Regions from separate parts of the Homo sapiens genome. Here region 2 is linked to region 1. The links come from fine-mapping of genetic effects on gene expression. A gene starts in region 1. The other region holds a variant in brackets. All regions are shown on one strand. Distances are between the middles of the regions. Region 1 holds the start of AGMO (alkylglycerol monooxygenase). Region 2 overlaps AGMO (alkylglycerol monooxygenase).

What was found. PIP is the estimated chance that this variant, and not a neighbour inherited with it, causes the effect.
Region 2: its variant is fine-mapped to the expression of AGMO in hippocampus (GTEx, PIP 0.98).

The regions. Positions count from the first base shown.
Region 1 is chr7:15,557,292-15,571,132 of GRCh38, reverse strand. AGMO (alkylglycerol monooxygenase) reads left to right here and starts at 9,118. Exons shown (of 13, transcript NM_001004320.2): 1 at 9,118-9,413; 2 at 10,862-10,992. The coding sequence starts at 9,288. It overlaps LOC124901591 (a long non-coding RNA gene), which reads right to left and starts at 12,276. Exons shown (of 3, transcript XR_007060217.1): 1 at 12,106-12,276; 2 at 11,820-11,952; 3 at 10,933-11,037.
Region 2 is chr7:15,191,295-15,208,870 of GRCh38, reverse strand. AGMO (alkylglycerol monooxygenase) reads left to right here. Exons shown (of 13, transcript NM_001004320.2): 13 at 7,512-8,554. The coding sequence ends at 7,586. Among named protein-coding and RNA genes, the nearest start is that of DGKB, 300 kb to the right of the region's middle. The variant T/G (reference allele first, on the strand shown) is at 7,923.

The sequences.
Region 1 (13,841 bases):
ATACTAAACACACACTTTGAAAAACAGTTTGGATATGTCTTAATATTAAAATATGTTTACCATACTATATATTACAATATGAACAGTATTCTCTAAAAATTACTTATATTATGAGATTATTTATAGTAATATGTAAATTATCATATATTATGTTTGCATTTGAACTCCAAAAATGGTCATGAAAATAAAATAAATATAATAGATCTGGTTTTCAAACTAAAAATGAGTATTATTTATTCATTTGAATATGATTGAAGTGAATACATGAAAATCATTCTTATGTTTGGCTTGTAATTAGTTTTGTCAGTACTTTTTCTTTTCATTGAGAATTCTATTTTGGGCTTTGAACTCCAGATTTATATATCAACCTGTGCAACCATCTCGACTTTGATGTCTACAGGCATCTCATATCATGCTTTAAGCCAAATCTTGCAGTTTGTCTATCACAGTAAATAACAACTTTATTCTTTCAGCAGGTTGAATCAAAGTCTTGAATTATTCATGTCTTCTCTCTTTTAATCTCATTCCCCACATCTGATCTCTTAGCAAACCTTATCAGCTCTACCTCTAATATGTTTTCACAATCACCCTTTCACTTTGACTCTTTCTGCTGCAACTATCCTAGTGAAAGTAAGCAAGATTTACCTGAACTATATCAACTATTTATGAAGAGTCCTCTGCTTCCAGCCTACCTCTCTAAAGTCCATTCTTCACAAAAAAAGCAAAATGATCATTTCATACAATGCATTGGACCATGTGACTCTTCTGTTCAAAACCCTCCAATGGTTTTCTGGATATATTAGTTAGGAGATTGTTAGCCGTTAGGTGAACAAGGTTCAAATAATAACAAATAAAACACAAAATACATTACAAATTTGGTATTTGCTCATATAATGACCTGATTGATGGGCTGCTCTTCTCTATGTAGTAACTCAGAGACTCAGACACCTAATTTGGGGCTTTGTCTTTTCATCATGTGGCTTCCAAATTTTACAAAGCTTGACCTCACATGACACATAGAGTATGAACTCTTCTATGTAAAATAATGTGCCTGAAAAAGACCCTAAATACAAGATGTTCATTAAAATATTGATGAGACTACAATCTGATTGGTGTGGTTATGAGTGCTTTTTTTCTTAAAAATCTTCTGCATTTTCTATATTTCTACAGTAAATATATATTATTTTATACTTTTAGAGATATAAACAAACTTTTTAAGATGATCATGTCAGTGTAGGTTTCCAGTCTAATTCCCAGTAAATGATTCTAATGACTAAAGAGAAAGACACGTGGAGAAGGAAAGGATTTCACCAGTTCAAGAGTACAGTCTAGCAAACCATATGTCCCCTCATTTGGAGAGTTAAAGTTTGGAAATATGGCAGCATCAAGCAGAACGTTAGGATTTCCTTTCTTGAATTCCCCTTGAAATGCATCTCTGTATGTTACTCTTAATCCTTGGTTGTAAGACAACCATTCAATGAACTACTTCTTCAACCCAGTTTCTTTAAAAAAAAAAAAAAAAAAGAAAAAAAAAGAGTTTCTTTCCTCTGCTGTAATGGATGAACCCTGTAATCTGCATGTGGTCAGTACTGGTGGGGAGAACTATGAGTGATATTGATACATTCTAATTGGAGTCATTTTGGCTTTGAGGGCCAATGACAGCTGAGGAGAAATTTACCATCCAAAGTGGGGGAGTTATAGCAATTGTTACAAGCTAGAAATGTCATGGATTGAGAATCTTTCTTCTAAACAAATTCTCATTTGTCACAATTGTCAATTTGTCCAAAAGCAAAAGCCATGTTTTCTGACTGGGTTACCCCAAACACTAGGCCTTGGACTTACCCCAGCTTCAACAAATACAAATTATAGGAAGATCTCAAATGGTACTTTTGTATGTTTATAGAAAGAGTAGAGGCCAAGGAGAACAAAATCAAAATAAGGAAAGCTGATACGTGCCATGGCAGCTCTAATTCACTGTAAAAGCCTGCTGGGATAGCTGGGGCTGCTGAGTGATAGCTCTATCCTCCACCATCTCATGCTGAACCGATAAGACAGACCTAAACTCCAAAGTGCCACGTATACCTGGAGTGGACCCAAGGACTATTCATCCACATCTTTTTTTGTTTTTTTGGTTGGGGGGAAAAGAAGCATAAAGAACCCGTACCCATCCACAATAAGACAAATTGGGAGTGAAGGAGGGGAAAGAGCTTATTAAAAGTTGATAAAGAACATGCTTTTGAGTATTATCTCCAGGAAACTAAGAATAATTTTAGGCAGAACTGTTGTATACACGCAAGTGAAATAGGAAAAAAAACTGAAGAAAAAATGAGGCCATATGATAAGAAATAAATACAAAAGGAAGACTGAGAGAGTTTAGGAAAACATTTAAGAAAACAAATAATGCCATTGTGAAATTTGAAGTAGACCCAGAAGGAAGATGAAAATAGCAAAAAAAAAAAAAAAAAAAAAAAAAAAAACACAGAAAAACAAAAAAAACTATACCCAAAGTATAGACTTAAGAAGACAATATCAGAAAATAAAAAGGAGATGAAAATGGACACAGACAATATAATGGATATGGTAGACAAATGGTATCTGGTAAACAGATAAATCTCATTTGTGAAGAAGTGTAAAAAAATCAATGGAACATAAATAATAGGCACAAACACAATGGCAGAAATTGCCCTAAAGCAAAGGAAGATTCAAATCTGAGGTTTAAGGACGCTCACCTCTTAAAAATATTCTACCCAAAATATAAAAAACTATAATGATTTAATTTCAAAGGCACAAAAATATTCTACAAGCACCCAGGAAGTAGAAATGAATGACTTTTTTTTTTAAGGCAAGTTGAACTCAGACTTAATATTATTTTGAAATATTAGATGCCAAAAGAAAAGGCAGATCTATAATTATAGAGGTTCTACCACTCTGGTTTTCTTACATAAACACTTCCCAGAAAAGCCTTTACATTTTTTACAATTTTATAAACATTGAAGCTAAGTGTTATATAAATAAGAGACTGTGATGAAGACTTTTTATAATTATTAAAGAGTGTTATGTCTTGTACTAATTATAGGTTTATTGCCTCTCATCTCCAAATTCAAACTTTATTACCTGATTTGTGAAATGGAAATAGGTCCTTTCAATATTTTTCTTTGCTAGCTGACATGACGTTAAGCTTTGTCAGGAGTGGGCTGCAGACAGTCATTGTTAAAGGAAGAGGTTTTCCTCCCTTGTTCCTACATGCTCACTTGGCAGGGTCTTGTAACACAGGCAGATTCTTCAGTGCCCAGTTCCTGAAATGCATAGCAGCCAGTAGCTTACCTGGCACCTCTTCAAGTGGTTTTGTAGGAAAGTGCCTCTAGTGAGAAATTCCTGGTGAGCAGCGTCTTCTGTCCTTTTTCATCCTAAAGGGCTGATTTAAAGCAAGTTCCCCAGTCCAGCCCTGGGAGTAGTGGCTGCCCCTTCTGTCTTCTATTCCTATGTTCTTCTGAGTTTTCTTAACTTTTATTAGCCACTCCCTTATAATGCCAGCTACCTGTTACAGCTGGCAAACCTTTATATTAAATTTCTCCTATTCAAATTACTGTGTTTTCTCTCTCAAAATTGGACCTTTATCAGTATCACCAGAGGTTCCTAATCAGTTGTTTCTTTCATGTCGTTTCAATAAAGATCTTTTGATGTCTTTTTGTGTTGATTGATTTGCAAATGCAAATACTGAGAGTAAATAGTTCCTCATGTAAGACATTCTCATGGGATGTCTGACACTCATATTAGGCTCTTCTCAAGCATTTTCCCTTGAATTAGACGCCCCCCCCCCCAAAAAAAAGGGAATCCCCAGCAGAATTCCTTTGACTAGGTAGCTTTGAGCAGAGATCTTGTCAGATCTTGTCAGATCTTGTCAGAGTTACTCAGACAAGAAGACATCCGAAAATGTCCGGGGTGTTGATATAGTTTGGCTGTGTCCCCACCCAAATATCATCTTGAATTGTAGCTCCCACAACTTAGAAGTCCCAATAGACTTCTAATTATCTACCTTATTCTAAATGTATTTTTTAAACTAATTTGGAAGATGTTCCTCTTAATCTTATAATATTATAATTATCGTAGATATATCTATGACTACATTTCATATTCAAATTGTGGAAGGGACCTGGTGGGAGATAACTGAATCAATTGAATCATGGGGCCGCTTTCCCCCATTGTTCTCATGACAGTGAATAAGTCTCATAAGGTCGGATGGTTTTATAAGGGGAGACCCCTTTCACTTGGTTCTCATTCTCTTTCTTGCCTGCCGCCCATGGAAGACATGCCTTTCACCTTCTTCCATGATTGTGAGGCCTCCCCAGCCACGTGGAATTGTGAGTCCATTAAATCTCTTTTTCCTCACGAATTACCCAGTCTCAGGTATGTCTTTTATTGGCAGCGTTCAAAAGGACTAACACAAGCGTCCTCTTTTTGGTTCATGTGAAGGTTCAAAGTCCTGTGTTTTGTCCACCTTGGTTTCACCTAACAGGTCTTCAGCCAAAGTGCTCTGTCTCTGTTGAATTTTGAAAGAATTACTATTTGAACCAAAAAGTGTATATTTAGCCAACTTATCCTTCACATAGATAAGCAAAAAAAATTATAGTAAGGTATGCAATTATACATGTACTGTCCTGAAAACTTTGTGCAATCTGTAACAGTACAAAGGAAAAAAAAAAGAATGGAAGATATAAGGAATAGAAGTGTTGGAAGTGAGCATTGACATGATTTAGTCATAGAATTAAGTTCAAATGATTTTAGTATATACATTAATTCATTCAAAACAAATTTATTGAGTGTCTCCGATGTCAATTCTTTCCATATTAATCCATGAATTTAATGTAGTTCCAATTAAAATGCCAACAGGATGCTTTGAAGTTTAGTCTAAACATTTACACAAGCAAATGTGTAAAAACAGCTTCATATTTTTGAGTAATAAAATTCAAGCATGATAAATTGTTCTACAAGTTACCAGAATTTATTATGACAGTACAATAATGAAGACAACATGGTACTAGCATAAGAGTAGATAAAAACATCCATAGAGCTGAATGAAGAGCCTGGAAATAGTACAGGTACATAGAATAGTGGGGAAAGTATTGACTGACTAATGGTGTGGCAAGAACTGTGATCCATAAAGGCAAGGTAAAAAGTCAAATAATTACTACATACCATATGGAAAACTAAATTCCAGATAATTGAAACAACAGAAATCTTTTAAATGCTCCAAAAAAAAAAAATCAGAAGATTATTCTTACGGAATTCTGGCAAGGGAAATGTTCATAAGCAAGATCCAAAAGCAGAGGTAACAAAGGATAACAGCACACACAAAGTTACAATTGCAGTATGACAACATATAGATAACTAGTGAATATGAAATGAGAAAATACTTGTCACATATATCAGAATATATATACTGTACATAGAATTATATATTTATAATACAAATGGCCTATAAACCAATAATGACAATGAAATAAAATAATGTGCAGCTCATATTAAAAAATAAATTTCAGATTAAGAAGCAAAAAAACATTAATAAATGTACTGAAAGATGTTCAGTGTCATTAGTGAGATGCAAATTAAAACAAGATACCATTTTTTCATTAACTAATTGGCTAAAAATTATGAAAGATTAATAATAGCCAGTGTTAGCAAGAGTGTGGAGGGGAAGGCAATCTGAAAGGGGAATTCGGCAGTAATTATCAAAGGGTAAATTTTACATCATCTTCATAGCATAATTCCGCTGCTAGGAATCTATGTAACAAAAAATGTGCAAAATGTATAAATATTTATACCATGATGTTTATTGTTGCATTAAATTTATTAGTTAAAAATGGAAGACTGCGTTTACACACACAACAATAGAGGAGTAATTAAATAAGTTATGATGGTGTGCTGGTTCTTGGTTGACTTTTTCCATAGATTGATTCTTCCCTCCCTTTCTCCTTCAGCACTGTGTGTAGTAAGAGGTTACCTTCAGCAGGCTTCTTTTTCTAGCTTTTTCTGTCAACTGGCTTTTGACTCATTTAGCTTGTATTAGTCTATTCTCACACTGCTGTAAAGAACAATCTGAGATTGAGTAATCTGTAAAGAAAAGAGTTTTAGTTGCCTCATAGTTCTGCAGGCTGTACAGGAATAATTGCTAGGGAGGCCTCAAGTAACTTTCAATCACTGCAGAAGGGGAAACAGGTGTGCCTTACATGACCAGAGCAGGAGGACGAGACAGAAGAGGGAGGTGCTACACACTTTTAAACAACCAATCTCTTGAGAACTCACTCACTATCAGGAGAACAGCAAGAGGGCAATCTACCCCCATGATCCAATCATCTCCCACGAGGCCCCTCCTCCAACACTGGGGATTTCAATTTGACATGAGATTTGGGCCAGGACGCAAATCCAACCATGTCATAGCCTAATGGGAAGTACTGTTGGGAGACTGGTGGGCAGGAAGAAGGGAGAAGCCATAGTACTTCCCTTTCTTCCCTCTCTGCCATGGGTATTATTTCTGGCTTTGATTGGCTTTGCTCCATGGGAAATACTCTTGCTAGACAAGCCAATGGTGGTTCTAACTTTTCCTAGATGACCATAGCCCCTGGGCCCTACTAATACAACCTTCTCCATTTGTCCCTACAATTTAACAATGGTAGTGGCTTCCTATTGGTACTAATCTCTAGATTACCTCTTTGTTCCTGCTTGGTTTTTTACTTCTCCCATCATCTATGTAACAACTTTTTTCTTGTATAAAATTGCTTCTGCTTTAAAAAGTTAGAAATAATTTTGTTTTGCTCATTGAAATGCACACACACACTTTTGCAGCCAGTAAAAACAACGAAGAAAAGGCTGTACCTGTATAATCATATACTAAAAAAGAAATGTTCCTGGTAAGTTATTGACTCCAAGAAGGAACTTGCTGTATCTTATGTTTGATAAGGTCCATTGCAAAATCGAACCATTATGTGTATATAGAAACGTATTTGTATAGTAATAATGATAATAACTATCCCTTTTAGGAAAAAACAGATATGGCAAAAAAAAAAAAAAAAAAAAACCCCACCAAGAGGATATGTTATCCCTATGAAGTGAAGTGCAAGGTGTGCATATATTGAGAAGAAAGGATGCTGCCACTTTTGACTTTATATACAGCTATATTGTTTGTATTTTTTTCTCTTGTATCACATTGTTAATTTCCAAAATTGTTTTGAAAGCAGGTAATAAAACAGTATGCCTACTATGATCATTTTTATTAAATTTTTTTTTGTTTTTGTGACAGAGTCTTGCTCTGTCCCCCAGCCTGGAGTGCAATGGCAAAATCTCCACTCTCTGCAACCTCCACCTCTTGGGTTCAAGCAATTCTCCTGCCTCAGCCTCCCGAATAGCTGGGACTACAGGTGCCCATCACCACACCCAGCTAATTTTTGTATTTTTAGTAGACACGGGGTTTTGCCATGTTGGCCAGGCTGATCTCAAACACCTGACCTCAGGTGATCAGCCCGTCTCGGCCTCCCAAAGTACTGGCTGGGATTACAGGTGTGAGCCACCACGCCCAGACACCTTTATTAAAAATTAATGTCCATATGTACTTATTGGTAATGGGAATGGTCTGAAAGGACAGTCAATTCTGCTATAACATGTGCTTTGAGATTAAATTTGTTCCAATGTGATTAATATACCAGAAAATAATTTGAGCATACTGCCTATGCTCATGTGTGATTTTATTTTCAGTGAAAAAGAGTAGTTGAACTTTAAAAAACTGAACTGAAAAACAGAAAGGCTTAGGATGCACAAAATACACCCACCACTTATAGTAACACCCTCACTTCACCTGTGTGTTGTGAGCCTTGACACCCATATGTCATATTGCAACTTTCTGTCTGATTTCAGATAACCCACATTTCAACAAGCTAAAGTAACTTGCAGTTTGCAAATCTTCCAATGCCTAATTTCCAAAACAAGTTTCAGGTCTTTTTCAAGGTAAAGCATCATATTTATTTTAGTATTTATGTATATCTTAACCATGTAACGTGTGAAAGTGTGCTACCATTTTTATTAGGCTCTCATCCTTTTTTTCTTGTTCCTTGTGGGTCATTATGAAGTTTTTGAGTATTTTACCCTAATCACATTTTTTCTCACAAGTCCCGTGGTTTTTATTGCACAATTTTGTACAGTATAGTGATTTTTAGGAATGGATATATCACATTATAGCAAAACTGACCATACATGTACCAAAATGTTAATAGCGTTTTGGGCAGCTTATTATTGCTTATCTATAGTTTCTATATTTTTCTAAAACAATCGTGCATTGATACTTTAATTAGATCTATGTAAACATCTTTAAATGATGAAATGGCAGCTAAAGGATGATTACAGCTGTTTTGGGTAAAGAGCTGAGGCTATTCTGGCAAGCTCCACATATTCACTGGTAATGTAATAAATTAAGTGCCTTCTAATCTACTTAAAAGGTACAATCACTTAAGCTCTTTCTGTAAAACAGAAACAGGTCTCACAGCAACATCTTGGCACCTTCTTTAATCAGAAAGTTCCCATAAGTACTAAGAAGAATAGAGAAGATGTGACTAGCCAATTTTCCATTAAATAATGTAGATTATGTAATAAGCCAAATGCCCCTAAACTGGTTGCAAACATTCAGAAGTGGTAATAACATGATTCAGATACAGAAATATAGATAGGCAATAAGGAGCCAGATATTCAGTGCTTACTGACTTTCAAGCTATTATTAAGTAGCTCGCCTATACACAGTCTCTGTAGGAAATAAAGAAACTACAAGCTTGAACACATTGTAAATTTCTAAATGAGGAGAAAAAAAGGTTTTTCTATGTGACTTGATGCTTGAATTTCTATCCAGTTTTTCAGAGTGAACATATACCTGCGTTATCACTTTTTTCTTTCCGAGACACTATTATGATGTTTTTTCTCTTCTTTTTTAAGTAGTAACTTGCTCCACCTACAGTCAAACTGCACTGTATGACTTTGATTTGGGTATGAGTCCTCTTTTCCCTCCCCCACATGCCCTGTTTCTGGCCCAGCGCCCACTGAACTCTGTACTTGTTCTTGATCCTTGTATTTTCCTGTCTCTCTACACAGAATCGGCTGTTGAGTGTGCTCTCAGTGGAGCTTTGGTTTTAGCTGTTCTCTGACAAAGAGCTTGTTCTGAGCTGCACATCTCGTCCTCTTTGTTCAGCCTCAGGCTTCAAGCATTGAATCCTAAATATTCTCCAGCTGGGAATCAGACAAGGGCAGAAATGAAGAACCCAGAAGCCCAGCAGGATGTTTCAGTTTCCCAGGGATTTCGCATGTTGTTTTACACGATGAAACCCAGTGAAACTTCATTCCAAACATTAGAAGAGGTGCCTGATTATGTAAAAAAGGTGAGACTTTATTGGAAGAGGCTACTCTTATTCTTGCTGCTTTCTTAATAAATGGTAAGGTCAATCTCCTTAGGGTTTTGTTCACTTTCATTATTCAAATGATTACATTCTAATAATAATAATTCAGTTTCTTAAAGGCGTGAAGCAAAAGTAGAATTTCCACTTGAATTTTCTTACAATCCATAGCCATCTTCACCTGTAAATTCCCTCTTTTATATGTCACTCCAGAATATGACAAAAACAAAAGTTTAAAGTTTTCCTGGACTCCATGGCATTGTAAATGTAGCTATTGGAAGCTCAATGACAAATAGTTACACCACATCAGTAAACTTTGTAACAATTTCATTTTTAAATCTTTCACTTGTCCACCCCTTCCAGGGAAACTATTTCCTCTTTCATTTGGTAGAGTAGTTCAGCAGAATGAAGGATATGCAGCTTGACCAGGTCCAGCTCTGACTTCCTAAGTTTGAATTTGACCCAAGTTTTCTTTGAAACTCTGAAGTGCTCAGAGGCACATTTCACTTCTGGTTCCTGGCTATGATTGGAAGTGGAAATATCCAGAATTAGAACTTGAATACTGAAGTTCCCCACCCTATCAAAGTTATTCCTACAACACTCACTAGTTCATGGCAGAAATAGAAAAAAAATGACATCATAGAATATGTTATTGAGAGTTCAGTTTAGAAAGCTTCAAAACTCATGATTAGCTTCCAAATGAGTAAAATCCGTATCTTTTTCAAGATTAGATATTACACTTTCTTTCTGAGTTTTTAAGTTAAAAAAAGTGGCACTGATATCTTCATAAATTATTATTGTTTATACTGCAATATCAAACCAAATTCAATGCTCCATCACCAATAGTGGAGCTTTCAAAACATCTCTTATTATGTGAAACAAAAATCAAAACCAAATGAATAAAATCTGAATCATGTTTTAAGCAAACATGTAAAATTACCATATTCTCTAAAATTCTAAGCAGAAAATTGTCTCTACTCTTTGAATTTCATCATTAGAAATAGTTCTGGTAAGTCTAATATGAAAAATTAGAATTATGTGCATCTTTAAGGAAAGCCTCTTGAAGTGGGTCTAAATTATACATGTAGAGACAATAGACCTCTAATTATCTACCTTATTCTAAATGTATTTTTTAAACTAATTTGGAAGATGTTCCTCTTAATCTTATAATATTATAATTATCGTGGTTATATCTATGATTACATTTCATATTCAAATTGGATGATAGAATTTGAGCACATGTTTAGTGTATGTCTAAAATAATTAGACTTCTTTACCACTGTGTAGGAAGTAATCCTCTAAAATGAGTGTCTACCATCTCCTGCAGGGCTTCCCAAATCTGGGCCTTTCAATTCTGAAATGACTAATCAGGAAATGTAAAATAATTTCATATGGAACATAATAGCATCTCTTTTCTGCAACTTCCTTTCCAGGCAACTCCATTTTTCATTTCTTTGATGCTGCTTGAACTTGTTGTCAGCTGGATTCTCAAAGGAAAGCCACCAGGTCGCCTGGATGATGCTTTAACGTCAATCTCAGCTGGTGTTCTGTCTCGACTTCCAAGGTGAGTTAGATGGTCAACAACGCTGAGCATAAAAACTGAAATTGCCTAAGTATGAGGGGCAAAGGAACCCAATGCATGGGAGAATTAGTTTATTTACACAAATTTTCCCAAAAAATTCAGTTCATGTCATTATTTAAAATTTTGATATTTTGTTCTTCATTGATTTTTTGCACTTATTTAAAAAATCACCGCAAACATTATTTATCTTGACTCTGTTGATATCCCTTTGAAATGAGTGCTTCATTTGCCTTATTGAGGTTCCAACTCTGAGTTATGGTCTGGTTCTCTATTAAAATTGTGTTTTGTCTCTTCCAGCTTCAGAAAGAATAGCTGTCTCGGGTGTAGCCATTCCCTAGAGCAGGTCACACAAATCTCTGAATAACTACAATAGTTTGCTAATTGGTGTCTGGCTCTAGTACAACCCCGTTTGCAGCCAAGCATTTCCATAATATGAATCCAGTGGAAACCCTTCACTGGCTCTCTATTGCCTCAAGTGTAAGGTAAAAATCCCTGTCTTGAACTATAGAGAACATTGTTTCTCTGGCTTTGCTTTTGGATCGTCCACTCTCCTGTCTATTTGTCATGTTTATCCTGTCATGCTTTACTACTTGCCATTGTCCACATGCCACAGGCACTTCCCTCTGCCTGGAAAGCCATCCAGGCCAATTCAGATTCATTCATTAGGTCTAAGCATAGACATCACACTCTTCAGCAAGCTTTATCTGTTTTCCAACCTTATGTTAGGCATTCCTGCATTCCTACACTACAGTCCCATGGAATTGTGTGCTTATCCCAGATCTAGAATTATCACATGACATGATGCTTACCTGTTTTTCTCTCAGCCCTTCCTGCTAGCTTGCACACAACTTGAGAGCAAGAGGTGTATGTTCTTAATAGTTTTAGCTCCTGTGCCTGGAATGATGTCTGTTGCATGTAGTTTCCCCAAAAGCAGTAATATTCCTGTAACATTATGTTGATGATAAAATTAGATGATATTGGGACTCAATAATAGTAAGATATAAATGACCTACTATTTTTTAGAAAGAGTACATTATAATGTGTGAAGAGGAAAGACCAATAAATGGAAGTCATCTTCAACACGTGAGGGCTTACCAAAGAGGCAGAGGGTGAGGAAAGATTCCCTTAGAAGTCTGTGCTTTGAGCTGCTGATGAATGTTCTCATTCCAGCTTCCCACCCATTTCTTCTTGTCCTGTTTTAAGAGCTTTACTTCTGACTGGTGCTCATTGCTTTGGAATGTTTCTATTAACCGCCCAGTGGGAAGCTAAGGTGGATTTTTAAAAAATAACATTAAAACTTTAAATATCTAAAAAAGGTGGAATAATTTCATATATTACATAAAATAGTTTAAATAAAAGTAAACTTAAAAGTAAAATTTTTTCAATAAGTGTTTGAGAAAAGTGCATTATTAGGTATATAGTAGAAGTAATATTAATAATATTTACTCTGAAAAACTACTTGTAATTGTTGCATTTTGCAGTTGAAATCAGAAGAAGATAATGTCTCCAGAAATTTGCAGCTAATTCCCAGATTATCATGAATAAGAATTTACAATTATAGATAATTTCCTTTATTATAATACTTGTCCCCTTTAAGCAGAAATGAACAAGAAAAACATTCAACATGCCCAAGGGTATATAGATTTAGATGTAGATTTAGTTATTTAAAAATACCCAGTTGGTTAATTTAGCTCATTCTCAGAAAGTTAAGTGTATAGGTTATGGAAATCAGATTATTGATAAACTATAAACGTCACCCAATAACTGAAAATTGCCCTGTATATACGATTATGGGTCATATATTTTACTGAATTGGAATGCATTTGTTAAGCATTTTGACAATGAATTTGACAGCAAATTGAATGAACTCTTCAGAATTTTTTTTTTTACCTTTTAAAGTTTGATTTTGTTCCAAATGAAATTAGATTGTTCTCTTATCATAACATTGTAAGTACCAGAAATACAAACTGTATCCTCAATACAATATTTTTGCTTAGCAGTGTTATTTTAAAAAGGTACAGAGTTATAACAGGAAAACAAGAATAAAAGAGATATTTTTACAAAAAATACACCCCAAAAAGCAGAGAGAAAGGGGAAAGGGGGGAGAGAGAGAGAGAGAGAGAGAAGGAAAAAAAGAAACCAAAACAAACCAGTCCTTCAGGGATAGAACATGAGGTTCTTTTCCTTCACCCACTACTCATAACAGTCCTTAAACTAACACAAACTGTTAACTCTGGTGCCCTTTGAGAGAAAGGTAAAAGGTTATGAACTTTAATTTGGAGAATATTTTTCTAAAGTATTTTAAATGAGAATAGCAAATTACTCCTTTCTTCCTTGTAGATGTAAAGAACAATTCTAAATTATGAAATGTGGATTTTTAAAAAGTTTTTCAAGGAATTTTCTCTTTTACAGCCTTGTCTGAAAGATCCCAGTAAAGCAAATTATCTGAAAATGCATTTTTTTGTTTTGTTATATAAAACTATGGTGAAAAATATTTTTATTTTATTTTTTGCTATTAAAAAAAAATCCCAAACCCAGATATAAACAGAAAAGGAAAAGCGAGCCTGTGGATCCATTCCTCTCAATCCCCTTTCAGAAAAAAAAAGGAAGAATTTGACATCAATTCTTAAAACAATATTTCAGTTGAAGCCACAGCATCAAGGGGAATCCCTGTGCAAATCATTAACAGCTGAGGGTTAGATTAACACGGCAATGATCGGATCCTCTCCCAGGGACTAATTTCATTTTCTACACTAGCAACAGGGGCTTGCCACGTCCTTCAAATAGGTGATTGCAAGACAAATGGTAGTATGCCTTTTGCTAATTCGTTT
Region 2 (17,576 bases), 360 kb after region 1:
AATCCAGCAACATCTTATTCAAAAATCTTCTGTTTCAAAACATGCTGGATATGAGGCAAACAATTTTGTGCCAATGTTAGGCGTATGCAGAAAAATTAAATGAAATTGTTTCTACTTGTAGCTAGAACTTATTTACAGAAATATGAGTAAAATAAGAAAGTTAAAGAATTTTTAAATTCACAGAACTATCTTATACTTCAAAAAATAGTGCTATCATAGTTTTCAGAGCATGGGTGCAGGTTATTTTGAATGGTTTGCCCATCACTAATTTTAATGCATAAAAAATCTCAGCAGAGAGTCAAGCTAGGTATAATGTTCACCAAATGCCTTGTTATTTTTCTGCTCTTGTTTTATTCCCAACTTTATAAAAACTAAAACAGACCATTCTTAAAAGTTTTTTATAGCCCTGATTTTTAAAAAATTTTCTTCTCATATCCATAAAAAGTAAAGAACATGAGGTTCCATGGTGAGCACCAGAGGAAGATTATTGGTGGAAAAAGATTATTTCTCTAAAGTACACCTTTACTAAGATACTTATGCCAACATGATGGTCAGTGTTCTTCCAAATGTTTCTTCTCACAAATGATATTTGGTCCTTTATTAATTTGACCTTATTGCAACCCTCTCTCTATGTATCCTTACTGTTTCTGCCCTGTAGTGTTTAAGAAAAAGTCCAAAAAGTCACTCTTCTGTAGCATTAAGAACTTGGATGATTAGAAAACTACAAATTCAAGCTTCAATTTAAACAAGGCACATTTTCTGGACACCCCATGAATATATTCATTATTTATAAATCACAGGCATAATTTGTGATTCATGATTTATAAATCGCAGACATAATCAAGTTTGGTTGTCTCTAAGTTTTCTCTGTGTGTTAGTTGTGGTAAATCTATTTTCACTTTATTTATTTCCTTATTTTATTTTACTTTATTTTTTTGAGACAGAGTCTCGCACTGTCACCCAGGCTGGAGTGCAGTGGCACCATCTCGGCTCACTGCAAGCTCCGCCTCCTGGCTTCATGCCAATCTCCTGTCTCAGCTTCCCGAGTAGCTGGGACTACAGGTGCCCGCCACCAAGCCCGGCTAATTTTTTGTATTTTTAGCAGAGACGTGGTTTCACCATGTTAGCCAGGATGGTCTCGATCTCCTGACCTCGTGATCTGCCCACCTTGGTCTCCCAAAGTGTTGGGATTACAGGCGTGAGCCACCACGCCCGGCCTATTTTCACTTTATGCTAGTGTCTATGTACCTGACCTTTTGACAAAGTTAAACTAAAAATATAACAATCTAAGCTGGTAAAAATTGAGAAGTTAGGTCAGAACATCAAGAGTATGTGTATCAAAATATTTAGAAATTCTCCAGGAAAACAATGTAAATAGAAGTGTGTCGGTGTTTATAAGGAAAGGCAAGAATCTAGTAGTTATTCAAAGACAATTTAAAAATCCACATTATTGAGTTGTCATTCTCTTAGAACAAGGGTTGGTAATATTGGAATTTTTAGGGCCATCTTTTAAAAACACTTTATTCATAACTTCCAAATCAAAGATTAAAAATTCACAGATGTTTTTGAGAAAGGTAGCATCTATTTTCACTTTATGCTAACTATGGTTTATACAATTTTAACCAGATGGGTTTACATGTGCAGTAGCTAATTCATGCCAACCGTATTAAAGTATATTCTCTGAATTATGGGTAGGCTCTGGAGACCTCTAAATGATCTCTAATCTTGTGGCTAATATTTATGGTTTTCAAATGTTATCGTGATAGTTGAAATGCGGTCTGGATGAACCATAGGCTTCTCTTCTGTAGTAGTGTCCAAAAGGATGCACACTTTCTTAGGCAGTTTAGACCTTTAGAAGTGAGTAAATAATTGTATAAAATTAGGGAACTGAAATAATGCGTGAAATGAAAGATTCTGCATTTGTTGTGTAAATTAAGCTAGTACTTTTTGTTACTCTAATTATAAGTGTCTTTTGCCCCCATTAAATAGTAAAATAGTGAAAATCTGATGTTTCCATTTTCGGAGTTCAGCTGGAGCAGTGAAAACTCTGTTTTAATGTGTATTTTGTATTTATCTTTTTAAAACTTGATTGCGTTATGTTTAGTATTTTCTCCTGTTAGAAAATGAGTATCAGTAGATACTTATTGATTGAAGGATATTCTTTTCAATAAGGTGTGCAACAAGCACACAAAAACCTCTTCTGATACTATTGATATTCTTTTCAATAAGGTGATGTTATCACATGGTCATTCACATGAACTTTCTTTTTACATTGTTTTTCATCAGCTAAGAACTGTGATATATATTTATAAACTAATGTAATACTGTTTGATTTAAAATTTAGATAGGAAAAAACCTTAAAAGGCCTCATATTAAACATAGCTGTGATTGTGTTCTCTCTTGAATGGGGTATAGAAATAAGCACAAAGAGATAATGCAAGATTTCAAAGTCATAGATGCAGTATTTGTAATTTATTTCTTCAACATTTTCTTTCCCTTTTTCTGAATATGAATAAATATGTTTGTATATATAGAATATTTTCAAAGTGAAAACAATTCTCAATTTCTTGTAAGTTGGCATTTGTGAAACTGGGTTCTTGCAAAATTCTAGAAAAAAAATCTATAATTATCTAATGTATTTCTGATGTTTCCAGTTCCTAAAGAGCTATGGTACATTTGGCTCTAATTTATATTCTAGTTCCATTGTGCTTATTTGTCCTCTTGCGCTCATAGGAAATAGAGATATTTTGGAGCAGTTCAGGCTTAATCTCTCTTTGGGTTCTTATCTGTACAGCTGACAATGGTCATCTCAAAAAAAACCAAAACATTGTGTTAAAAAGTGTATTTAACAAAGGATTACCTTTAGTTTTCTTTAAATAATTTAGGAAAAAAGTACTCCATATTTAATGTGTTTCCTTTAAATCAATTCTTACTGTTGCGATTGTTTTAGTTCTATTAAATAGTTAACTGGTATTTTATAAACCTCACTGATACTACAGAAACAATTTTTCAGAAAAATGTACTCTTCCATTTAGGGCCAGGGTATACATTTGTTTAGAATACAAAATAGTTATTCTAATATTCTAATTCTTAAAAATTTTAGGGAAATTTTAGGAAATAAGTATATAAACCTATATTTGGCTGAAAACATATAATTCACTAAATAGTAATAACCCTTCAATTTGTTGTAAAATGACTAAGTCTGACATCTTCACGAAAATGCCATTTTATACTTAAAGTAACTCAAATTTCTTCCTTTACAAAGTAGAGTAAGTGACTTTATCATTCAGCAAAATGACTTAGCTCATTTAACATGTTTATTCATCTTATTAGTGATTCAGGGATATACATATTCATACCACTGCTGGCAATCCATATAAAATTAAATAAGATATATCTCAATGAATGTTTTCTATTTTAATCTTTGTGACATAAATACATGTTTGGGAGACCAAAAAAATTAGCAATTTCAGAGATTTTTTTTCTCTTGTGAATAATTATTCAAGTACATTAAAGCTTTCATTTTATTTGTAAGCTTATCTGAAGGCTGAATTATTTGAAAAGTCTTATTTCATCACTACCACAAAGGCTGTGGAAGATCCCTAGCTAGTTGTAATTGGAACTTTCCACTGCACAAAGTGATATTTGTTTTTCTTTTCTCTTCTGGTTGCTTATTGATAAATATAGTAAGTGTATTAAAACCAGAAGAGACAGATATGTACATAGGTATAAGTCAAATCCACCACATTTCTTTGTAATTTGAGGGTTTGCAATTTGAGAGCATGCAACAAGCACACTATTCTCTCTCCTTTAAGATTAGATGCTTGATTTCCTCTTCATTAGAGCCATTTTGAATAAGGCCTCTCAAAACACAGACATAAACCTGGGTGAGATGATATGTCCCTATAGGCCCAACTAGGGAGGCTGAGATGGGAGGAGTGCTTGAGCCCAGGAGTTCGAGTCCAGTTTGGGCAACATAGCAAGACCTTGTCTCTTAAAACAAAAGCAACAAACACACACACACATAACTGAGAGGAGCAGCAGAATAAAACACCAGTCCCCATTAAAATTTTAATATGGATTACTGACAGATTAGCCACCTGCCAATTGATGAACTTTTTGGAAAGGCATGGTGGAAACATGACAGCATCTGTACAGGCCAAAAGTTCAGGCATCAGAGTTGAGGTTCCTGGGAAGTCAAGGAAATAGCCTGAAGACAAGGACCACTAATGATGTGTTAGCACAAGGACGGCTTGACACTAAGAATGAACTTCCTCTGCTTTATATTTAGAATCCAGCTGTTAAAATCATGGGACTTGCCTAGAACTAGGATACAATAAGTGTGCATTGAGTTTGTATGTATCCGGAAACATCATATATGTAGATTAGAGACAAATATTGCAAAATAAGAAGTCTACAGTTTTCATCTATTCTTTCACTAGCCTAAGTAGGAATTCTGTATTTATTTAACAAATATTTGAGAAATGTGTTAATGAACTATCAAGTAAAGTGACATATTTAATCTAATCAACTAAGGAGACCTAAAATAAATGGCGTAATACAAAAATCAAGAGAACAGTTGGACAAGGAAAATTTTAAATGGAGTGACTACGGTAATCAGGTGGTTATATTGACTCTATGTTAAATAATTTTCTGGCTTAAAATTATAGTGCAATATATATTTGAATCTATACATTGTATGTAATATTTATATATAAACACATATATTCTAAAGTGTAAAATTAACTCTGTTTTCTTCTACTGAAATATTTTCTAATGGAATGGTGAATATTTCAGAGTCACATATTTTTAGAAGGGCACATTTATGTTATTTTATTTCTATGATCCTTTGCCAATCTGGATTTTATTATATATAAAAATTCCAAATTTGTTCTTAAAATATTGATAGTGAAAAGGTCTCAGAAGCCTAGCGGTTACTGACACAAGAAGAAAAATAACTAGGAAAATCTAGGTGATGACTACAGAAAAGGAAATGAATTCACTATGGATGTTCATATTCTTTGAAATGATTTCCTAGGTTTTGCAGTTAGATTTTCTTGGGGTAAATGTAAAACTTTATTCTAGCTCTGATATTTAGTAGTTTTGTGATTCCTTGGTATAACCACATGAATTTTGAGTTCCTACTGTCTCACTGCCAAATTGGATACCAGTACACCAAAGTTTGTCATGAGAATTAGATGACATAATCTAATAAAGGCATGTGGGACAGTGCTGGCCTAAGCAAAGGTCTTCATTGCACATTAATATAATCTGATCCTGACTCCTAGGCTTAACCAGTTGTACATCTCTTTGAAGGGATAACACATAGGAGCCTGAAACAAGCAAGCAAGCAAAAAAAAAAACAAAAAAAAAGAAAAGAAAAAAAAAATAAGACTGCTAACTTCAGTACTGCATTTTCGGTAGGAATTTGAAAGCATTTCAGATAATTGGAAAAGGGAAGATTTTTGTGATTTACTTAGAGGTAGGTCCTAGAGGATAAAGGATGTGAATCACAGTTTCAAAGGTGGAAAGATTTAGTGGAAAGTGGTGGATTAATAACAAGGCATAACTAGACTTGTAATCTTTTCCACTTCCTATTTAGGTAAAAATTTTTAATAGTACTGGAAGTCGAGATGAAAGTATGGATAGTCTAGGGGAATTGAGAATGGAAAAGAGGAGAATTATGAGATTTATGAGAATACTCCGAAAACTTTATATACAACTTATGAGGTTTCACTGAAGTAATTGTACTCAGCCTTCCCTCAGGGAGATCATCCTTGTAACCAATAAAGACTTCTAGTGCCAAATATAGCTTAGATTCCAGCACCCTGCACAACACAAGGTATGTATTAGTTGCTTGCTGAATATTCTGGATCTAAAGTAAATTATTTACTCTGATATTATAGATTTATCATCTCTGTCTCACTTGAAAAGCTATCTTCTCAGCGCCCCTCTCAGCATTAACCCATTTTCATGGACAAATGCAACTCATTGCACAAGTCTAAGAGCTTTCAAAAATACTCCCCCCAGCGCAGTATTATTTTACCTGGCACCATCAGAAGAAGTGCCATGAGGTCATTTCTCTTGAATTACAGTCAAAAGAAACAAAATCAAAACCAGCCTTTAAATATATTGTATTTGACTTCTGAGGCAACTCCAAGACGTTAATATTATTCTTGACTTCTCCTTCAATATAACTGCTGATTTTATTTTTAGTATTTTTTCATATTGTGGGTGTTATAGGCTAAAAGGAATGCATGAATTTGAAGAAGTCCATCAACCTGACTAATGTGAAGGATGATGGTTCTCTAGAAAGATCCAGGAGGTTCATATGAAACTGAACAACCCACTCATAAATGGAAACATCCTTGTTTGGGAGGGTTTTTTTTTTTTTTTTTTTTTTTTTTTTTTTGCTCATTTGTATTTTGGTTGTTGGTGATGTTTTTTCCTCATTCATGCTTTAATAGCAAAATCAGCATAGTTCAAGGTATTTTCTGTGAGTTAACAGCTGTCCTCAGTTAACAGTCTTGACTTCACCGGAGTTCCCCACACCAGAATGCTCCCATGCCTTCATCTTCTTAATTAAATGTTCTCTCTTTGTATATTTCAGTGAATCTTCCAGGTATAGTGATATTCTTCTTGGGGAGAGGCATCTGGTCCTATTTTAATAGTATGGAGGGGAAGTATACACATACATGAAAAATATAGAGAAACTCCTGCACAGCTATCCCAATAACTCTGGTTGTTTTGGCATTGTTTGCTTTCATCATCATTCCAGTTACCCAACCACCTAAAATGGTGATCAGGAAAGCAATCCTATAGTTTTAATTGTCGGTGCCTAGGTAAGAGCATAGGGAAGTGTTTACTTTTGGGAAATCTGATGGTGCAAAGACCATGACCAGAGCCTGGATTGAACAAACTCAATGAAATTTTCAGGCTGCTTAATATGATTCAGTTAAGTCTTCAGTGTGAAAGAAATTTGCAGTTACATTTTTACACCTGATAAAATCAAAAGACTGAGGAGGTAAATCATCAGCAGTGTTTAGAATTTAATTCACGTTGGGCGAAATTCATAGTAAGCTAGATCATACTGACTTGGAGGGATTCTTTAACAGTGTTTTTACTTCTCCTATTCCAAAGGTTTCTTAACCTATATAAGCAATTAGATCATCTAGTATAATGCATACAGCATGCTGTATCTCCAAATGTCAGAAGAAATGTCTGAATATCTAACTTGTCTAGCCTCATTCCTTGAAATGACCCAGATTTGTGAATATAAGAAACAAGCCACAGAAATAAAACTTCTTAACTCCTGCTCCTGTCTTCACACACCATGTTTTAAGTTAAATTGGCTAAGTTCTATCAGTGAACAATTGCTAGATTTAATTTAATAACTTGACTCCCTAAAATGTCCATGTTCATTTTCCTCTAGGGAAATATTTTTAATTCAGTTGAGCAATAGTATTGATTCACTTCTAATTTTTTTTTCTCTTTGTGTTTTATTTCTTCAGATTGTTTTTTCCATTTGCATTGCTTTCTGGGGAGTTAGAAGCATGAAACAACTCACCTCTCACCCTTGGAAATAACCTGAATTTGTACATAATTCTCTTCTTTTAATGAGTTGTCCACACGCATATTATGACTGCATATTAAAATGTAATTATTTTATGTAATGCTTATATGAACTATTTCTTCAATGAAAAGTAAAATTACTTATTTACTATTGTTTGCCTTTCACATTTGTTATTTTCTATTAAAAATTAAAGTCAGTTTTGGTTACTTCCCCCCTTTACTACAATTAAAAAAAGATTTCAAATATAATGATGTTATATTAACTGATAGCCTTATATGACAAGTATAAAAAGAAGGGATGAAACTTAAAAACAGTAAAAACAAGAAGGAATATTGCCTTTACATCAATT[T/G]GAAAACAATGTTTCCTTTGATGTTTGCTAAAATTATGCATAGATACATGTTTGTAGTCATAAAAATGTATTACATTGGTTGTCTTCCTAAGGCCACAGTTACCTTTGCAATCCATATAACCTAAGAAGCTGCATTCCAGAAAAAGACATCACTGAGGCCAGGCGCGGTGGCTCACCCCTGTAATCCCAGCACTTTGTGGGGCTGAGGTGGGCGGATCATGAGGTCCAGAGATAGAGACCATCCTGGCCAACATGGTGAAGTCCTGTCTCTACTAAAAATATAAAAATTTAGCTGGACATGGTGGTGTGCGCCTGTAGTCCCAGCTACTCTGGAGGCTGAGGCAGGAGAATCGCTTGAACCTGGGAGGCAGAAGTTGGAGTGAGTGGAGATTGCACCACTGCACTCCAGCCTGGGCGACAGAGCGAGACTCCGTCTCAAAGAAAAAAGACATCACTGAAAGAAAAATGAACAGAATTTGTCAGAATTAGTTTTTTCAACAGGTTACTTTGTCATACATTTCTCTAATATGCTTGGTCAATTTGTTTTGGCAGACTGGGCAGCATGCAGCAATTCTGCATTATTTAAAGTTATCAGAACAATGTTAATTCTCTAAATAAAATTACCCAAGGTGTTGTGTGTACATTGTTCATTGGGATTGTAAAAATCCACCAAGTGTTTCGTTAGGAGGGAACTGACAGGGATAAGCAGGATGAAGTCCAAAGAATGAGAACTGGAAAAAGTTAAAAAAAAAATCTTTATTTTTCATTTATCCAATATTTCTTGAAATCAAGTTAAAATTTAATAATTTAATAATAAAATTTAATAATTTAAATAATCAAAGACACATGTACTAAAAAAAACTAATGCTGTTCTTCATTGAGCTTTGCCTATGTATCACTGGGTTAAGGAGCCTGACTTAGATAATCTCATATTAGCAATACATTATTTAATCTTTGAATGGACAAAAATATAGAGTATTAAGAGAATCAGACTGCAGGTGTCTATGTGAACTGAGGATACAGAATTGAAGCATATTTAGTTTTCAAACTGGAACAGCAGAGGAAGATTAAATTTTGCATGATGAAAAAGCAACACATTCTATCTCAAGTATCAGAAGTGGGTTTGGCTTTGCTTCATTCTTTTTATACTTCTTAATTTAACACATAGTTATAGACAATACGTAAGCCTATAACATATATTGAATCCTGCTTTTGTCCCTTAACAACAATTTTCACAGAATTTTGTATACATATACAGAATCATGTTACAGTAGGGAGCCCTCTGCTGGCTTGAAATTAGGAAATTTAAGGCATAAACATTCTCAAGACCCTGATTCTACATTCTAGAGACTTTTCAGTGGGTAAAACACATTCTTCAGTAATGGCAAAGAAAAGAGACTTTTTGCTAATCTTTACATAGTTGTTTAGTATGTCAGAAGAGCTTAATGATTCCCCAAGGAATGATACATAAATATGTGTATATGCTTTAATATATGTGAATTTATAGGATTAGCCTAAAAATGAGTTTAATAATAGAAATGTTAATAAATAATTCCCCCAAATGAGAAAAGATCCTTTTGTGGTGAAGTTCAGTTTTCTTTGAGTAAATTGAATTCTGTCTATTCTCTCTCTTCTCTCTTGGGTTTACCTCACTGTGATTGTGAATGGTTTTCTATTAGAAATACAGATATTTTCAAGATACAAATTTGTGCCAATGAAAGTGGGAGTGGTTACCAGACAGGTAATGTTCCAGACACCTCCTATACAAAAATTATAACAGTGAAAAAATTAAGACAATGAGAAATCTGACCTAACAGACTCCATCTTGCTTCTAACCTCCAAGGTGTCCTTGTTTATTCCTGGGCACAGGCTGAGCTAACTTTGGTAGGAACTTAGTTTATAGTTTGCCTTTGAAACAAAAATGATAACGGCACTTTCTTAAAACAAACCCCCTTCTTGCCTGGGGACAAGGCTGCCTTTGTGGGACTAACAAATTAGCCACAAGATTAGAAAATAGGCTTAGGAGTCATACAGCTAGAGGCTACAAGATTCGAACTCTCCCCAGTTGCTCCTAGGGATAACATCATTATTGTGAAACCTCAGATTGGTGTTGGAGATATTTTTCAGCTCCTGCACTCCATGGATCAGCTGGCACCACCCAGATGGATAAACTGACTCATCTGGTCTTGTGGCCCCCACCCAAGAACTGACTCAGCCAAGAATAGCTTCAAGGCTCTTTGATTTTTATCTCTGACCTGATCAGTGAGCACTCTCCATTCCCTGGCCCCCTACCCACCAAATTATCCTTAAAAAACCCAGTCTCCGAATTTTCAGGGAGACTGATTTGAGTAATAATAAAACTCCAGTCTCCTATTCAGCTGGCTCTGCATGAATTGAACTCTTTCTCTATTACAATTTCCCTGTCTTGATAAATCGGCTCTGTCCTGGCAGCAGGCAATGAACCCATTGGGCGATTACATTTCTAGGGCCTCTGTGCATTATTAACCAAGGCACTTTATTCTTCACTTTATTCTTTAACCCTGCTAATTTTCCAGTCCAGTTTTCTTTTGCAGAGCACTAATACATGATGACAGAACATACAGCTATTATTAATGTTGTAAATTGATCTTGAGTGATACCATGTAATGTATGCTTACTGGAAGGACTTTAACACACTCTCTCTCTGTCTCTGTCTCTCTCTCTCTCTCTCTCTCTCTCTCTCTCTCTCTCTCTCTCTCTCTCTCTCTCTCTCGGGAAAGCCCTAAAAATAGGACTCGTCAATTACTCACCACTTCTATCGGAGAGATGCAAACTGACTTTGCAAATCATATGAAGATATTTACTTTTCCTAATCTACCATAAGAAAAGATAGAGGAAAGGAGCATTTGTTTAATGAGTAGTCCTCTATTAGTATTATTTTATTTAGTCTCTACAATCCTGTTAGGAGCTGTTAACACTACTTTATAGCAGATAATTTTGAGTCTGAGGTTAAATAACTTGTACAGGCCCATGAAATGTAATAAGTGACCAAAATAAAATTTAAACTCTCTGAAGTCGAACATTGAAGTCCATGATGTTTCCCCATTCCACGATGTCAGACATCTGAATAAGGCAAGCCTTTAAAAGTATAAGCTGAGGAGTTTAAGTTCAGAGTATTTTCAATTCAATTTGATGCTCCAAGATACAAAAAAAGTTCTCAGGATAAGTATTTTAGTCATAAGATTAATTGACAGGGTGAATGAGTCCAGAACTTCTAAACCTTCTAAGAATGGCAACATCGTAAGTTTACTTATAGGATTGCCATATGTCTGAAAGAGGCTACAGGACTTGTCAGTTTCCTCCAGACTTGCTCATTACCTTAGCTCTATTAGTTATGCCATTTACTTCCATATCATCTCATTCCATCAAATTATTTTTGTTAAACTGAATCTAATCGTCTCAGAGTCCTGATATTTAGCAATATGTGCATTCCTAATCATGAATCAGATGTTCAATTAGTTGCTAAAGTATATAAACCCTTGTATTTAACATTAACAGCTTACATGATAGTTTATTAAATATTTTCAAATTTCATTTTTACTAGTGATTATATAATTTAATCCCTCAGTGTGGAATCTGCAATAGAATCATTGACTGGAATTCTTTAACATATGGTATACATTATAGTGTACAGTAATAGGATTTATTCGGGAGAACAATAGAAAATAAGCTTCCTTTTTAATGTCTCGCCCATGTTCTCATAGTCATAGACTCCAGAAACCCAAGATAAAATAGCAAAAAACAGACTAGTTTGACTTTCAGAATCTTAAAACATTTTTTATGTTATAATTTTCAGCAACATGATGGAAGCAGCTTGGCTCTATCTTAAGCCTGCCTCAGTGGAAAAAAAAAACAACAACAAAAAACGTTCTATTCATTATTAGAACATTTTTTTCAAATCTCACTCCAGTTCTGCCATCCGTTCTTCCTAACAACTTACATTCCTTCCTCCCCAAGACACAATTAGAAAAAATTAGCAAATTAAGCATTGATGTTTATCTCTTGCAGATTGTGCCTTCTTTTTGACATTCTACAACTCTAGCACTATTTATGTAAACATTTTCAACCACCCAGGCACCCCAATATCCATGAATCATAATAACTTCATTTCTTGGGCATGTTCTTTCTTCATTTTAACAGCAGTAAGCCCCAAATTACAACTTGTCTTGATTTACATTACAGAAACCAGGAAGACACAGTCTTTGCTTTATGCATCAGGATTACCTGTGGATCTTTTTAGAAACGGAAATGACTGTTGGGAACACTGAATTTAGTAAGACTGAGGACGTGCCAAAGGTTCTATATTTTTCAAACCTCTGGCAATGATAAGCTGCAGAAGCTACAGCCAAACTAGAATGAAGGAGAACTTCTCTTGTCCCTCCTGTCAAGTTTTAGAAATAAGCAGAAAAGTTGTGCAGTGTGAGAGAATATTGTTTCTATAGCAAAGATGTTAATTAAGAGAGGTAATACTGATTAAGTAAGCATGGATATTTAGACATGCCACCAAAGTTTTCTGTTTCACATGAGATCATTTTGCATACATTTTAAAAGAAACGGAGCCAGCCGGGCGTGGTGGCTCACACCTGTAATCCCAACACTTTGGGAGGCCAAGTTGGGTGGATCACATGAGGTCAGGAGTTCGAGACCAGCCTGATCAATATGGTGAAACCCCTTCTCTACTAAAAAAAAAAAGTATAAAAATTATCCAGATGTGGTGGTGGTGCCTGTAATACCAGCTACTCTGGAGGCTGAGACAGAAGAATCGCTCGAACCCGGGAGGCAGAGGTTGCAGTGAGCCGAGATCACACCACTGCATTCCAGCCCGGTGACAGAGCGAGACTCTGTCAAAAAGGAGAGGAGAGGGGAGGGGAGAGGAGGGGGAAAGAAAAGAAAAGAGAGGAGGGAAGGGGAGGAACTGAGCCAGAAAATGTAAATACTATGTAAGCATCAGCAAGCTGGAGAGTGAATGGAGGTAGAGTGGGGAATGGAGATGTGGTCGAAAAATATTGTCACCATAGGTCCTGTTTGCATTTGTCTGATTTTTCATTTTTAATGGAAGATTATTAATAATGGTAATGATACAGGAGTTAACAAGGCATTATTTGGGCAGATTATGAGGATAAGGAAGTCCTCGGTAAGGTTTTCCTTTTAAAGAAAAGCAGCTCCTAAATCATTTTCTTTTCTAACAAAAAGCAGTCTGTAAAATCAAGCTGCAGTCATGGAAAGGCAAGCTAGAAGCTTGCACAGGTAAATGCCAGCAGTTGTGCCAATAGGAAAGGGGCTACCTGGGGACTAGGCATGTTCAAAACGGTGGTTCCATGTTCCCTTTTCTTTGCTAACCACGTGTACGGTAAGGAGCAGACAACATGGCGCCAGCCAAGTACAAAACCCATTTGCATAATAAAAAGATTAGGGTGGAGTGACAAGCTTCTTCGCAGTACTATGTAAGCGTCACACCTGGTCCAACCAATCTTTGGGCCCTATGTAAATCAGGCACTACCTCCTCAAGCCAATCTGTACAACCCTGTGCACTTTACCAGGGGCACGGAAGACCCACTGGGGCACCCATCTCTCCCTGCAAGGAAAAAAGCTATTCTCTTTTCTCTTTCTTGCTCCTATTAAACCTCTGCTCTTCAACTCACTTCTTTTGTGTTTCCATGTCCTTAATTTCCCTGGCATGAGGCAAGGAACCTCAGGTATCTATCCCAGACAATGACTGCTTTAGTGTTAAAATATACAGGGGGTTAGGTTTGGTAGATCCCTATTTTACACTTCTGGCTTCTTCCAGGGTCTCTTGTAGTAGTGTGAGGTATGTGTGCTCACTGAAGGGAGCTCTCCCTGTAACACAAAGTTAAATGTAAAAGATGTCCATACATAATGGTTTCTCTCCTCCCCTTATCCTATTCAGGCAAATCCAACCAACACATCCCTTTCAGAGACATTAGACAAATGCAACTAACACATCCCCTTCTGAGGCAGTACACAGCATGCATTTTAACTTGCTGGTAAAATGATGTCTGCTGAGACAATCGGAGCCTAAAGGGGGCTAATTCTCTCTAGACAGGGGGTATTGGAGATCATCTAAAAATGGAACCTGGCAGCCACACGGCACACTAGGAAACCTTGGCTTGGCCTACGTAATAGGCTGCAAGATGCATAAAATCATCAGGATGCCATGAGCCCCTCCCCACCAAATTAATAACTCCATATTTAGTAAGCTAAGTACTGATTTGCTTTTGAATAAAACTTATGCTAAACATATAATTTGCATAAAATGTTTATCAACTTATATTATTCACAGGGTGGGGGAAGATCAGTGATATTACTGATTGCACAAAAACCAGAAGGAATAAGTGTGCTGAAGAAGTATCAGCATCTATTTCGAAAGTTTGTACTCATTTTAAGATATTCATGCTCAAAGGGGAGATCTAACACATGCAACTGCAGAGGGCATATGCACTCTCTGAAATGCATCATTATTCAGATTAAAAGACTTTTAAGTTATTTTACTTATATATATTTTTCTTTTTTTTTAATTTTACTTATTTAACCATTAAAATTACCTTGTGCACAAACAAAAAATAAAGCAGTAGCTATTCATGTGCTGGCTCCATAGCTGAAGGACTTTGCAATCAGTTAAAAGATACCAGTTTCATCTCACTGCCATCTGATTTTCCAAACGGATCAATATTTTCATTCAATTAATGTAACTGAAGTAATTTTTAACAGCCTATCCCATCAAATGTGAAACACTTGATCATTACAAATTAAAAAGTTTAATACTGAAAATAAAATTATATTTGTTTTGTAGAGATAGTATGAACAGAAATTTTGGTGGATAAGTGTAGTAATACAAAGCAGTGTTCTTTCTAAATTAAGAGATTGATTGTTAGCAGAAAAATTTCTTGAAATTATTTGTGTTGGACATAAAAATAATAGTATTTAGAGAGGTATATTGTGAAAATTTAAAAATATTTTATGTATACAAAGTTGCAAATTGCCTAGAAATTTATTTGTTGTACAATTGATGTTAAATACAAAAGAATACATCAAAATAAAAGTATGTTTTGCTGCCAGACATCAGATTTTAGAAGTGAGTAAGACTTTGAAAAAAATTTTCTAAATCAAACCTGTGTCCTCTCATGTTACTGAACTTTATGGTAGACTCTGTCAAACTTGGTTGCATTTGTTTAGAACTAGTTGGAGATCTTTAGACAAATATCAGTAAAGATTGACAAAACTTTTGTTCCTGAAGTTATTAGTGAATTTCACTTATTGAAAACGAAGCTTGCAAACAGGGAGATATTGAAATTGATCCCTATTAAACTAGGAAAGGACTGAACAAATTATATAATAAGAGTTCCAACTTCAAGTGAGATTTAACTCTGACACCCAAAGTTGAAGCTTGAGAGTATTGATGAAACTTCTGTTTCAAAAGAGATAAACTTATATTATGTACCAAGAAGGAACAGAATTTAAAAAGCCATAATTTCACAGCTTGTAAATTTGGTAAAACAATTAACAAGTAATAAATAAGACAAATTACTTGATAAATTTTGTTTTGTAAAATATTTTTGAAACGTTATTCTGAATGTAGGCAAAAATACAAGAGCTATGACATATGTTGGAGTTAATTATATCACTTAATAAGAGAAAAATTAGAAAATATCATACATTTGCTGTATTTTATAGCTTGTTAGATACTTCAGTACCTGTATGGATAGTATTTTCAGAATATAAGTGTTATGCAGAGAAAAGTCAATTGCAAGTGTCAACACTTTTGAATGTATTAACCATAAGATGAAACTTTGAATAAGAATACGGATAATTTTATTTTAAAAATTCAAAATAATAACACCATATTAGAAACAATATCTTCAAAAAATGCCACTGGCATGCTATTAAAGATAGAAGTGACTAAGAAAACTGATTAGAGTATATATTAAGAATAATTATTCTGTTTATGTCATTTTTAATATTCTATAACCTAGATGATTAGTGTGAAGGTTTTTTAAAAATTTGCTTTGGTGACATTGAAACAGGAAAGTTCCTTGACCCCCTTATGGGACTTACGACAGGGGTGTGGCTAGTTTGCTTGGCTCCTGGTGCTCAAACTCCTTATGGGAGGGGGAACACTCAAATGGACAGGTGCAGGAGCCAGGGCGGGCACTTTTGGGCGCTGGAACCACAGTAGCGTCTAAGGGTGTGTTACAATTAATGCTCTATTAGCAGTTGCTGTCTAGGGATGGCTAAGTGTTAATCAGCTCAGTGGAGAGTCAGGGTGACAGCTTTTTACACCCTGCGCTCTTGGTACCTGGACCTTTGTCCAGTGTCCGGGAAGAATCAGGTCACACAGACTTGAAGGATGGTGAATGCAAGGATTTTACTGAGTGATGGAGGTGGCTCTCAGTGGGATGGATGGGGAGCTAGAAAGGAGCTAGAAAGGAGATAGAGTGGGAAGATGACCTTCCCTGGAGTTTGGCTGTCCTGTGGCTGATCTCTCCAACCATCCCCAGCCGAACTCCTCTCAGTGTTCAGATGCTCCTTCTCTTCTCTCCTTCTCTGCCATGCTGCTCTGTCACTCTTCCACTCTTTTGCTTGTGGAGCCTGGGGTTTGGGGTTTTTATGGGTACAGGATGTGGGGGGCATGGCGGGCCAGGGTGATTTTGGATAAAGCAACATTTTGGGCAGGAAAACAGGGATAACTTCTCATTTAGGGTCACGGTTTCCAGGCTCGAAGGTGGGGCCTTTGGTCGGGAATCCCACACTTCTGCCTCTTCTCCATATTAACATGGTTTTGTTATTTCTTGTTTTGAAAAACATTTATTTTGGAAACAGTTTTGAATATACTATTGTATAAATTTGCCAACATATTAAAACAGATTTTTGATGAATAGTTCTCTGTGTGTGTGTGTGTGTGTGTGTGTGTGTGTGTGAGAGAGAGACAGAGGGAGAGTGAGAGTGAGAGATTTTATTCGATCAATGATTTAGACAATCACTCTACCAGTAAAACCTATGTAAGCCATTCATAAATATGCTAGAGAGAGGAAAATTCTTTTACATTATTTAACACTGCTTGATGTGTCTAGGCTGAAGAGTCAGAAGTGGAGTTAAGCACTTTCAATATCTTACATTCTAAATATACTAACTTGGCAAATAAAAGAATGAATGACTTAGTGCCTTAAAAAAACTTTTAATAGTAAAGTGATTTTAAAAATTTAAGCTAATTTATTGAGACCCTTGAAGAACAATGATTTTCATCACTGAACAGTTTCAAGAATCCATTCAATTTGACGAAGACTTACTTCGTTGCCCTTAATTATAAGAGATTCAATTATAATACATAAAAAATATCTGACAAAAGTTCATGTTCAGTAGTTTGGTGTTTAGTCTCAACTATGTCATCTGACTGGGTCATTGATTCCAAATTTGTGGGCTGTGGTTTATCTGCATCAAAACACCTGTTACTCCCAAGGCCCATCTTAGACTGAAGTAATCCAGACCTCAGAGATACGTTCTGGTATGTACACAAGTACCTGGGTTCCTAGGGGGATTATGTGCAACCTAAAATATAAGAATCCCTGTTCTAGAGGAAAAGAGGGTTCATATATTTTC